Linked DNA regions of Homo sapiens: regions 2 and 3 are each linked to region 1. The links come from fine-mapping of genetic effects on gene expression. A gene starts in region 1. Each other region holds a variant in brackets. All regions are shown on one strand. Distances are between the middles of the regions.

Region 1 (4,241 bases):
CTGCCTTGATTTCCATCTAATTTCTCTCATTTGCTGTGCTCCAGCCACACTGGTCTTGCCCTTTCTCCATGCCAAACAAATCCCCATTTCAGGGTCACTGCACTTGCTGCTTCTCTTCTAGGATAGTTTCCCTCTAGAAATCCATGTTGCTCCTTCTCTCATTAAATGATCAGATATTTATGTGCCTCCTTAGCTAAGAGGCCTTCCTTATCTACCCTAACTAAGAGAATCCCCATATCACTCTTATCCTTTTATCCTGATTTATTTTTCCATAAAACTTGCCACATTACTGGGCATTATCTATCATTTAGTAATGTGTATATTGCTTATTGACAGTCTTCCCTACTATAATATGAGCTCCATGAGGCAGAGACTTTGTTTTGTTCACTGCTGAATTCCCAGCACCTACAACAAGCCTACTCACTAAACATTTGTTGAATTAATCTTCAGGATACATCAAATGTAAAATATCCTATCATATATTTATTGATGTGATGCATAGGAAAATGTCTGGAAGGGTACATACCAAAATGTTAATTATTTATTTAACCTGGTGGGAGGTGGTTTTTCTTTCCTTTTCTTTTCTTTTTGAGACAGAGTTTCGCTCTCGTTGCCCAGGCTGGAGTGGAATGGCAAGATCTTGGCTCATTGTAACCTCTGCCCCCAGGGTTCAAGCGATTCTACTGCCTCAGCCTCCGGAGTAGCTGGGATTACAGGTGCCTGCCACCACACCCGCGTAATTTTTTGTATTTTTAGTAGAGACGGGATTTCACCATGTTGGTCAGGCTGGTCTAGAACTCCAGACCCTGTGATCCGCCCGCCTCGGCCTGCCAAAGTGCTGGAATTACAGGCGTGAGCCACCGCGCCCGGCAGGGCTTTTTTTTTTTTTTTTTTTTGGAATGAACTTGTATTATGCATATACCAAAAAAGAATGAAAGGGTTCACACAGGCATAAAGTGTAAGTGAATTCTAAAAAAAGGTTGGGCAAATTTATCAAAGGCAGACTTCTAAATAGATGTAACAGTTATATAGTTCAGATAAACCATGGTTTGAATTCCCTTCCCCAGTACTTCCTAGCAGTGTGATCCCAAGTTATTTATGTCAGTGCCTAGATTTCTTCACCTGGAAAATAGGGATAACAACAGGTGCCTACCTCACAAGTTTTAAATGAGACCGTATGTGTAACCTGCTTTGTGCAATGTCTGGCATGCAATAAGTACTCGACAAATGGTAGCTATTAGAATCATCATTAACAGCAGTAATAAGAGATCTTGGGACATACCTAGCCCTCAAGATTGACATCAGAGTAGACCACCACATCCTCTCATCATTGCGCCTCAATTTGGGCCTCTGAAGCCCAAAGAGGGGATGGTTCTTTCCAAAGAAGACAATTTCGACGTTCCAGGAGCATCTGATTGAAACGCACCCTCTTCACCCCTTAAAATCAGTCTGGTTCATCCACGAGCAGCCCTTCGGGGCCCGGACTGGAGAGGCGCCACGGCTCGCCGTCCCTGGGCCCAGTTCCCTCAGCCTCAATTTCCCTTGCTGCAACAGGGGTGGAGATGGGAACGTTATCCCCAAACCCAGGCAGTCCCGGCTCGGCCCGCCTCACCGCACTCCGGAGGGGACCAAACAGCCCCACGCGCCAGGAAGCCTCAGGCAACGGGCCACGCGCCACACGGGCAAAGTGATTACTGGTCGGATCAAAAGTCAGGCAAGCGGCTCAGCCCCATCCTCCCAGTCCTCGGGCACGGGGACAGCAGCAGGCGCGCGGCGGGGACCGGGAAAAGGCCAAGAGGGCGGTGGCGGGCGCTCAGCACCCGGCGGGGGCCTCCACGGCCGAGGGGCGGAGGCGGCGGGCGCGCGGCACGCGGCGCGCTCGCCACTGCGCCGCCCGGGGGCGCGCACGCAAAGCCCGGAGGCGCGCGCGACCGGCGGCTCTTTGGCGCGGATTAGGGGGTCTCGGCGAGGTGAGGCGCCAGGCAGCGCTGGGCGGGCGGGCGGGCGGGTGGCGGAGCGCGAGCCCCTCTAGCGGGACTAGGGAGAAGCGGGGGCCACGAGGTGCGGCGGGGGAGGAGTCGCGGGCTGCGGGCCCCGGCGGCGGGCTTGACGCGGCAGGCTGGCGGGCCGGCGGGCGGGCAGCGGCGGGCCTCGCCGCTCTGTGGGGGAGGGCGGTGTGGGGCCGGGCCTGACCCCGGGGGCCCGCCCCGCGTCTGGGCGGTGCCCCAGTGCCCCGGCCTCGCCATTTCCCGCTCAGCCCTGGAGCGCGTAGCTCTACCAAGAATGGCCACTGTGCCAGATGCCCCTGACCAGCGTTGCCCATTTGAATTTCCTAGCAGGCCCCCCAAAGTAGGTATTTCAGTACCCTGTTAGAGCTGAGGCGCAGGTAAAATGACTGGCCCAGGCCGGTCCCACCCCGTAAGGATTTGAACGTTGGCTCCACAACTCGGGAGCCTGCGCCTTTCCTCCTCCCAACGTGGACTCCTGCCCGGCGAAGTGCCTCACTTCCTTCTCCCGGTAACTGATTCGAATTTGGCGATTGTTAGTTTGGAGCTAGCGCCAGTGTTTCCACGGAAGTTGGTGTCAGAATGTGGTCTCTTGTGAAAGGGGGAGAAAGAAGATTCTGCAGACTGCAATATTGTGCTTTTTTGCCTTTTTTTTTTTTTCTCCTAGGCTGTACTGCAGTGCAGTGGCACGATCGCGGCTCACTGCAATCTCCGCCTCCCAGGCTCAAGCGATTCTCGTGCCTGAGGCGTGGGCCACCACGCCCAGCTAATATTTGTATTTTCAGCAGAGGTGGGGTTTCACCATGTTGGCCAGGCTGGTCTCGAACTCCTGACCTCAAGTGATCCTTCCGCCTCGGCCTCCCAAAGTGCTGGGATTACAGGCGTGAGCCACCACGCCCGGCCCTACTATTTTTTTATTTTTTGAGATGGCGTTTCTTTCGCCCAGGCTGGAGTGCAATGGCGCCATCTCAACACACTGCAACTTCTGCCTCCCAGGTTCAAGCGATTCTCCTGCCTCAGCCTCCCGAGTACCTGGGATTACAGGCGCCCGCCACCACACCTGGCTATTTTTTGTATTTTTAGTAGAGATGGGGTTTCGCTGTGTTGGCCAGGTTGATCTCGAACTCCTGACCTCAGGTTATCTGCCCACCTGGGACTCCCAAAGTGCTGAGATTACAGGCGTGAGCCACCGCACCCGGCCTCCTACTGTGCTTTTTCGAGTGTTGATCAGTCCCTATTGACTGTGCATCCTTTACTGGACGTCTGTTTTTGTTTTTGTTTTTTGAGAGGGAGTTTCACACTTGTTGCTCAGGCCAGAGTGCAACAGCGCGTTCTCAGCCCACCGCAACCTCCACCTCCCGGGTTCAAGCAGTTCTCTTGCCTCAGCCTCCCAAGTAGCTGGATTACAGGCATACGCCACCACGCCCAGCTAATTTTGTATTTTTAGTAGAGACAGGGTTTCTACATGTTGGTCAGGCTGATCTCGAACTGCCGACTTCAGGTGATCTGCCTGCCTCGGCCTGCTAAAGTGCTGGGATTACAGGCGTGAGCCACTGCGTCCAGCCTTGACATCTGTATTTGAAATGACACAGCTATCCCTTGTAAGACACTGCGCAAGTAACATACTCTTTCAGAGCTTGCTTGCTTTTGAAAAAGCAGCTTGCCCCAAAAGTGTGGGAGTGAGGATTCAAAGAATCCCCACACCTTGGTACCCACGGGTACCTAGCAAATTGAAAAAGTTCAGTAAATTTGGCAGTTATTTGATTGCTGCGTTCGTAATACACCCTTGCTAGACTCATTTTTCTTCAGAGCTCAACTTTTCCTGAGAGGACAGCAAAGGGAGACCTACCCCACCCCAAAAAGGGAAAGTTCTTTGATGGCAGCGTTAGCAGAAATGTTGCCCACACTTAGTGATGAATTATTCTCCAAGCTAAAAATTACCAGGGTGAAAAAAATCACTTCAGAAAAGCTAAAGATAAATTAACCTTTTGTAGAATTAACATTTATTAGTCCACTACTATGTGTTTATTGTATTCCTCCTGTATGCTTGGCATTTTAAAAGCATACAGATAGGTATCCGATATAGTCTCTGCTTTCACTTATTTATTATTTATTTTTGAGACAGGATCTTGCACTGTCGCCCAGGCTGGAGTGCAGTGGCACAATCTCGGCTCACTGCAACCTCCACCTGCCTGGTTCAAGCAACTCTCATGCCTCAGCCTCCCGAGTAGCTGG
Region 2 (4,241 bases), 130 kb after region 1:
CTTCACAGGCACCCTCGGCACATATCACTAGCGAATCAATTTCATTAGTAGCTGGAGCTCAGGAAGTAAATGCAGAGTTTAATGCATTTCTCTGATCCAGAGGATAATGAACTGAATTCCAGAAGCTCAAAGAAAATTGGAGGACTGCAGTAAACACGTGCTTTTTCTCCCAAGTTCCTTGGATTAGTCATCATAACAGTTAACCAATCCATTAAGGACAGAACTGGAAGACTCTCATTCAGACCCCAAGAATTCTGCCTCTCTGAATGTAAATAGAGAAATAGAGGATAAGTAGTAAACTACCCCCATTCCTTCTCCCCAGCTTCTGTTCGCAATATTCTGATTCAGCTGCCTTTTAGGGGCAGTGATGTGTGGTACTATAGTCCTCCTTAGTCAGGTGGACTGTCAGGACAAAAAATGTCTGGTAGCTTGGGCATGATTCTCCTCTGCTTCAGGAAAGGATGACGGCAGGGTAAAGATGTCAGGTTGCCATGCAGATTTACTGCAATTAAAGTCCCTAAAGTAGTCTGGGCGTGGTGGCTCACACCTGTAATCCCAGCCCTTTGGGAGGTTGAGGTAAGAAGACTGCTTGAGGTCAAGAGTTTGAGACAAGCCTGGGCAACATAGTGAGGCCCTATTCCTACCAAGCCAGGCATGGTGGTGCATGCCTGTAGTCCCAGCTGTGGGAGGTTGAGATGGAAGGATCACTTGAGCCTGGGAGTTCAAGGCTGTAGTGAGCCGTGATTGTGCCACTGCACTCCAGCCTGGGTGACAGTGTGAGACCCTGTCTCTAAACAATGAACAAACAGGTAAATAAATAAAATTCAGTTTTGAGAACTTCATAATCTATCACTACAACGGAAAGGAGAAGTGGGCAAGGGTAACAAGGGCTATCTACAGGGAGGGTTTGTGCAAGTGAATGGAGGGTAATGACACATTTCTCCTACCAGAGTAAAAACACTTGTTTTTCCATTATAAATGCAACAAATGCTATTGAAAGAAAGTTGAAAAAAATGAAAAAACTAAAAGAATATTTAAAAATCCAGTGTTTTGGCTGGACACAGTGGCTCATGCCTGTAATCCCAGTACTTTGGGAGGCCGAGGTGAATGGATTCCTTGAGCCCACGGAGTTTGAGACCAGCCTGAGCAACATGGCAAAACCCTGTCTTTACAAAAAATACAAAAACATTGGCTGGGCTTGGTGGTGTGCACCTGTGGTCCCAGCTACTCAGGAGGCTGAGGTGGGAGAATTGCTAGAGCCCAGGAGGTCAAGGCTGCTGTGAACTGTGATCACGTCATTGTGCTCCAGCATGGGTGACAGAGGGAGACCCTGTCTAAAAAAGAAAAAAAAAAAAATCCAGTGTCTCATCACCCAGACACATCCCTAATATCATTTTGGCAGATTTCCTTCAAGCCCTGTAGTAACACTTCTGTGTCATTCAAACTTCGTGCTCCTTTACAAAATGGCTGCGTAAGATCCTGGGCTAAAGATTCACCACAATTTACTTAACCAATCCTCTAGATTTGGACTTTCAGGTTGTCTCTAATTTTTCACGTTTACAAAGAACAACTTTGTGCACTTAATTTGCTTCTTTCTGTGAATTCATATTTAGAATCGCTGCCTTAGGATATTTTCTCAGATTTGGAATTACTGAGTCAGCTACTCTGAATGCATATTAAGTCCTTTAATTCATTCAACGTTTACTGAGTGTTTACTGAATGTTTACATAGTGCCTGGCACTGTGCTCAGATAAAGAAGAAAAGATGAAAAACACAGTCTTGATCTCTGTCTTCAAGAAGTTCACAGTCAGGGAGAAAGCATGGTGCCAAACTTCTCTTTCCATAGGTGATTCCATCCTACAGTATGTAGTCCACATTTTACCACATCAACACTATTAGTATTCATACAAACAGACCATACAAAAATTGGGCTTAATTAGTAGGCAGGCCGGGCATG[G/A]TGGCTCATACCTGTAATGCCTCTAGCACTTTGGGAGGCAGAGGTGGGTGAATTACTTGAGGCCAGGAGTTCGAGACCAGCCTGGCCAACAGGGTGAAACCCTGTCTCTACTAAAAATACAAAAACTAGCTGGGCGTGGTGGCACGCACCTGTAATCCCAACTACTTGGGAGGCTGAGGCATGAGAATTGCTTTAATCTGGGAGGCGGAGGTTGCAGTGAGCCGAGATTGCACCATTGCACTCCAGCCTGAGTGACAGAGTGAGATCTGTCTCAAAAAAAAAAAAAAAAAAAAAAAATTAGTAGGTAAAAAATGAAACCTTGTTTTAATTTGAATTTATGTTTACTGATTAATTGTACCTCCCCTTTTATGAATCACTTCACGTTTTTGCTCATACGTTACTGGGATGTTGGTATATTTCTCATTGATTTGTATGCTTCCTTTACAGAGCAAAGACATGAGCCTGCCATCTGTATGCACTACTACACCTCCTAGTTTACAATTTAATCTATTTTTTCCACACTTAAAATGACTTCCACTCATACTTTGGAGTTATGCCATTTGGCCTATATTGAGAAATGTAATAAGAAACTACCCAATGAAAACTGTTGCTTTATTTACTGAAAGGATTTCTCTTTTTTTTTGAAGGCAATGTTGATTATATTAGTTTCCTCTTTATGAGAACCCACAGAAGAAATTTCTTTCTGATATTCGTATCAAGGCCAGGCACAGTGGTTCATGCCTATAATCCCAACACTTTTGGGAGGCCAAGGTGGGTGGATCACTTGAGGCCAGGAGTTTGAGACCAGCCTGGCCAAAATGGCGAGACCCCGTCTCTACCAAAAATATAAAAATTAGCTGGGCGTGGTGGCGCATGCCTGTAATCCCAGCTACTCAGTAGGCTGAGGCGTGAGAATCGCTTGAACCCAGGAGGTGGAGGTTGCAGTGAGCCGAGATCACACCACTTCCCTCCAGCCTGGGTGACAGAGTGAGACTCTGTCTGGGGAAAAAAAAAAACAAAACAGTCTGGTAGAGGTGTGCAGAATAGATTGCTAGGAGATTAAAAAAAAAATGGAACCAGTAACCCTAGCTATGAGGTCAGAAGTTCAAAAGTGATAAGGGCTTGAATTAGTTAATAATTTTTTTAAAAAAGATTTCTAATTTCATTATATTTTCTTTCTTTTCTTTTTCTTTTTTTTTTTTTTTTGAGACAGAGATTCACTCCTGTTGCCCAGGCTGGAGGGCAGTGGTGTGATCTCAGCTCACTGCAACCTCCGACTCCTGGGTTCAAGCAATTCTCCTGCCACAGCCTCCCAAGTAGCTGGGATTACAGGCATGCACCACCACACCCAGCTAATTTTGTATTTTTAGTACAGACGGGGTTGGTCAGGCTGGTTTCGAACTCCCGACCTCAGGTGATCCACCCACCTCGGCCTCCCAAAGTGCTGGGATTACAGGCATCAGCCACTAAGGCCTTCGTTATATTTTCTAACAAAAAAAATAAGGTTTCTAAACTTCATTTTCTTTTCTTTTTTTTTTTTTTTTTTTTTTTTTTGAGACAGAGTCTTGCTCTGTCACCTAGGCTGGAATGCAGTGGCACGATCTCAGCTTACTACAACCTCCATTTCCCGGGTTCAAGCAATTCTCCTGCCTCAGCCTCCTGAGTAGTGGGGATTACAGGCACCCGCTACCATGGCCAGCTAATTTTTTTTTTTTTTGTATTTTTAGTAGAGATGGGGTTTCACCATTTTGGCCAGGCTGGTCTCGAACTCCTGGCCTCAATTGTTCTGCCCGCCTTGGCCTCCCAAAGTGCTGGGATTCAGGCATGAGCCACCATGCCCAGCCTAATTTCATCATATTTTCTAACTACTAATAATATGTAGGATTGTTATGAATTTTTGCCAAATGCAATACATTTAAACTCCTGAATTTAGATTAAAAAATATTTTTTTATCTATCTATCTATCTATAGACCGGGTTATGAGACTGGTTAATTTTTGTATTTTTGGTAGAGACGGAGTTTTGACATGTTGCTCAGGCTGGTCTCAAACTCCTGGGCTCAGGTGATCCGCCCACCTCAGCCTCCCCAAAGTGCTGGCATGACAGGGGTGAGCCACTGCACCTGGCTGCTTGAATTTAGATTTTTAAAAGAATTTCATTATCACCAAGTAAACATAATTTTATCTCTTTTTTCAAATATTAATACTCCATTTCTTATTTCACTTGCCAGAACAGTATTTTTTTTTTTAATTATCTACATACAATTTTAGGTTAGAAAATGAGAA
Region 3 (4,241 bases), 42 kb after region 1:
TGCCTCAGCCTCTGGCATAGCTGGGATTAGCGCCACCATGCCCAGCTAATTTTTATATTTTTAGTAGAGAGAGGGTTTTGCCATGTTTGCAAGGCTGGTCTCAAACTCTTGGCCTCAACTGATCTGCCCACCTCTGCCTCCCAAAGTGCTGGGATTACAGGGGTTAGCCACCGCGTCCGGCCCTAAATGAATGCTTTTAAAAAGATGATAACACTTCAGATTTGGGTATGGTTGGCTCACACCTGTAATCCTAACACTTTGGGAGGCCAAAGTGGGAGGATTTCTTGAGCCCAGGAATTCAAGGTCAGCCTAGACAACAAAGTGAGACCCCCCACCTCTAAAAAATAAAAAAGATGATAACAGTTTAAAGAAGCTTGTCAGCACTACAGACCAAAGGAATGACTTGCTCATGCCACAGAGAGGTATTTTGTTTACAGCTCTGAGTCTTTACAGCAGCTCCTGTGGCAGCATGACCATGTCCAGGAGCATATTGTCCCTGAGCTGTCACTCGCAGAACACTCAGTGAAGTGCACTAGGAGCCCATGGAAAGTCAGGAAGGAATGAAAAGGGGCTTTATAAGCACACCTGGAACAGTTAGAGGGGCACAGATTTTGTAGAAATCAGGACACTGATTCAGCCTCTGGCTTGCTTCTGAGTCATGGTATAATCATGAGTAAGTGCTTGGAATCTTGCTTGCTGTTTCTTTATGTCCTCTGCCATTAAAGAAGAGGTGACACTGATTAGTCAGAGTGTAAATGTCTCTAATGAAACATGGTACATAATTCAGATTTGTGTTGTTACCATTCCATTATACCATTATGCTCTTAATATTACTGAGCATTAACAACATTATTTTTATGGTTCCTCATTTAGAACTACTGGAAGGTTGCAGACTGTTTGGCTGGGTTTTGTATTTAGAACCTATCCAGAATATTGGCTGATGCCACCAAGACCTTTTCCTCACCCACACAAAGATTTTTGCCTTGAATCATGGAATTTGTTTAATAAATTTGGTTTGCATGGTTCATTATAGAGACCTGGGACACAATGGAGGGATAATTGTATTGCAGCCATACCAGAAGGCTTTCAGAATGTATTTCAAATGTATACTGCAAGTGAAGCAGTATCCAAGGAAAAATAAGGAAGTTCCGTGATCCCTAATTGGTACTTACTCATATTTTATTGAAATAAGCAGAAATGTTTGGTTCAGAAAGAGAGAGAGAGAAGACTCATATCTTAGAACTGTCTTGTCTCATGTATGTTGTGAGATCTCAATGCACATGCTTAGTGTAGTTCCTTCTTGCTGCCATCTCTTTCCCCATCTCCTTTCATTTGTAAAAATTCTTCCTAAATTTTTAGAGTACTCTTTCCCTGAGTTTCTCAGGATCCTAAAGTCCTGGTTGTAATGTCTTCCAAGTCATTGTTGCCCCATAACCCAGGCAAGCAAGAGATATGATGAGCTCCTCCTATGTGTTGGGTCTGTGTTTCCAGTACTTCTCAGGGTTGCACCTTAGTACAGTTCACAATTTCTTCTCCCTCTGTTCTGGAAAGGTAATTTTAGAAAGTTTTCTCTCCTAGGCTTGGATCTGTGGACCCCTTCACCTTTCACTGTATTTTTCAAATTGTATTTCTTTGGCACATATTATTAGCCTTTAAATCCTTTAACAATTAGTAGAGCAGAGGTCCAGCCTGGTCTCTGTATATTCACCTACTGGCAGTTCCTTTCACTTATAGTGATTTCACTGTTTTTTTTTTTTATTTTTTTTGAGACGGAGTCTCGCTCTATCGCCTAGGCTGGAGTGCAGTGGCGCGATCTTGGCTCGCTGCAAGCTCCGCCTCC[T/C]GGGTTCACGCCATTCTCCTGCCTCAGCCTCCCGAGTAGCTGGGACTACAGGCACCCGCCACCATGCCTGGCTAATTTTTTGTATTTTTTAGTAGAGACGGGGTTTCACCATGTTAGCCAGGATAGTCTCGATCTCCTGACCTCATGGTCCACCCGCCTCAGCCTCCCAAAGTGCTGGGATTACAGGCGTGAGCCACCGTGCCCGGCCTGATTTCACTGTTTTATACATAGGATATTTTAGACATGAATACTATCAGTAATAATTGCTAATACATATAGCATTTACTATTAGTTACCATTCTAAGCTCTTCATATATATTAAGTCATTTAATCCTCAAAACCTTATGAGTTGCATATTATTATTATCCTCATTTTTGTGGATGAGGACATTGAAGCATAGAAAGGTTAGATAACTTGCCTGAGATCATACAGCCAGCAAGAGGTAGAGTCATCCCCAAGTCTGTGTTCTTAATACTGTACAATACTTAGCTGTCTTTACAATCTTGATTTTTTTTTTTTTTTTTTGAGACAGGGTCACGCCCTGTTGCCCATGCTGGAGTGCAGTGGCACAATCATGGCTCACTGCAGCCTCAACCTCCTGGGCTCAAACTATCCTCCCACCTCAGCTACCTGAGTAGCTGGGACTCCAGGCGTGCACCATCACACCTGGCTAATTTTTAAAATTTTTTTGTAGAGACAGGGTCTCACTATGTTGCTCAGGCTCAACCTTGAATGTTTGTTGCTGTTTCATTTTTGTGAGGTTTCACATTTGTTATCTTCTATAGCTTCAACACATTCCTGAGGAATAGATATTTTCCTGTTTTACATTCAGGGAAGCAGACAAAGAAGTTAAGTAATTTGCCTAATCCAGGGGTGTCAATCTTTTGGCTTCCCTGGCCCACACTGGAAGAAGAAGTGTCCTGGGCCACACATAAAATACATTAACGATAGCTGATGAGCTAAGGAATAAAAAACAAACAAACTCATAATGTCTTAAAAAAGTTTACGAATTTGTATTGCGCTGCATTCAAAGCCGTCCTGGGCTGCATGTGACTCACGAGCGACAGGTTGGATAAGCTTGGCCTAATGCTTCCTGGTTGCTTACTTTAGCCATTAGATCACATGATCTTCCCTGCACAAAATTGTTTGTGTGCATCTTGGCCAAAAGCTTGGGGGGAAATGACTTAAATAGTGTTGCTTCTGGGGAATACCTGTGTCACAGGTTTCTACTTGTTTGGTCGCAGTAGGGATTTTGATTGGCCTCCCTGCAGTTAAGGCCTCTGAGTTGGTTTTCTTGCCAAGCAAGCAGTAAGTGCCTTCTGTCAAGAAAACAGAAACATGTTGTTAGCTATTTTGAACAATGTTAGAAATACATTGCAGTGGGAAGGAGCTGCCTCTGACTTCTGCCCACTTCTTGAAATATTTTAAGGCTAGCCGTTTGGAAACTTTATCATTCTCCAGTGTAATCACAGGGAGACTGTGCTTCCCCCAAAGCTGAGATTTCAGGGGCCTTGTAGCAATGGACAAATTACAGGTGATTTTGGTTTGTTTGTTTATTTTTAATGATCTCTGGTTCTCTGTTTGCTAGCTTATACTGCAGCTTCCAGCTGCTTTAAGTAGACTGTGAGCAAGTGATTCTCATTCTTGTAGATTCTGCCTTCTCATTTCTGTTCTGCCTGCTGTGCTGTTGTCCTCCCTAGGTTATTCATACAGTTAAGATATTGTATTCAGTTGCTGCTGAGTGTGCTCAGAGATAGCTTCAAATATGAATTTTTATCTGGGAGAATTCCAGTTCTCCTCCCATTTGCTCCTATGTGTTTCTTTTCTTCCTTTTGTTCTCCAGAGCCAGTTGTACAAGTTTAAACTACTGAAGTGATCAAACTGTAGTACCAATTATCAGCAGTATTTATTCAGAGGCTTTTTTTTTTAAAAGAAACAGAGTCTCATTCTGTTGCCCAGGATGGAATGCAGTGGTACAATCTTTAGCTCACTGTAGCCTTGAATTCCTGGGCTCAAATGATCCTTCCGCCTTAGCCTCACAAGTAGCTAGGACAACAGGCACACGCCACCACACTTGGCTAATTTATAAAAAAAATTTTTGTAGAGACAGAATCTCAATGTGTTACCCAGGCTGGTCTCAAAACTCCTGGCCTCAAGCGATCCTCCCACCTCAGCCTCCCAAAGTCTGGGATTACAGGTTTTTTTGTTTTTTGGCTTTTTTTTTTTTTTTGAGACGCCCTCTGTAGCCCAGGTTGGAGTGCAGTGGTGCAATCTTAGCTCACCACAGCCTCTGCCTCCCAGGCTATAGCAATCCTCCCACCTCAGCCTCCCAAGTAGCTGGGACTACAGGCACATACCACCATGTCTGGCTATATTTTTGGTACATTTTTGTAGAGACAGG

Which allele goes with the higher level. Positions count from the first base shown, and alleles are read on the strand shown. Sizes are in standard deviations (SD) of each study's normalised expression. Not every link is listed here.
With allele T in place of C in region 3, the expression in prostate of the gene that starts at base 1,907 in region 1 is higher (moderate effect, 0.71 SD a copy in GTEx).

What was found. PIP is the estimated chance that this variant, and not a neighbour inherited with it, causes the effect. A credible set is the group of variants that fine-mapping cannot tell apart.
Region 2: its variant is the best candidate, but not a certain one, in a credible set for the expression of TADA2A in fibroblasts (GTEx, PIP 0.57).
Region 3: its variant is the best candidate, but not a certain one, in a credible set for the expression of TADA2A in prostate (GTEx, PIP 0.59).

The regions. Positions count from the first base shown.
Region 1 is chr17:37,404,980-37,409,220 of GRCh38, forward strand. It overlaps TADA2A (transcriptional adaptor 2A), which reads left to right and starts at 1,907. Exons shown (of 16, transcript NM_001166105.3): 1 at 1,907-1,970. ACACA (acetyl-CoA carboxylase alpha) reads right to left here and starts at 1,857. Exons shown (of 56, transcript NM_198834.3): 1 at 1,283-1,857. The coding sequence starts at 1,320. RefSeq lists an enhancer at 3,039-3,723.
Region 2 is chr17:37,530,442-37,534,682 of GRCh38, forward strand. All of the region lies in intron 19 of SYNRG (synergin gamma), which reads right to left. Among named protein-coding and RNA genes, the nearest start is that of DUSP14, 43 kb to the left of the region's middle. The variant G/A (reference allele first, on the strand shown) is at 1,958.
Region 3 is chr17:37,447,273-37,451,513 of GRCh38, forward strand. All of the region lies in intron 8 of TADA2A (transcriptional adaptor 2A), which reads left to right. Among named protein-coding and RNA genes, the nearest start is that of DUSP14, 40 kb to the right of the region's middle. The variant T/C (reference allele first, on the strand shown) is at 1,841.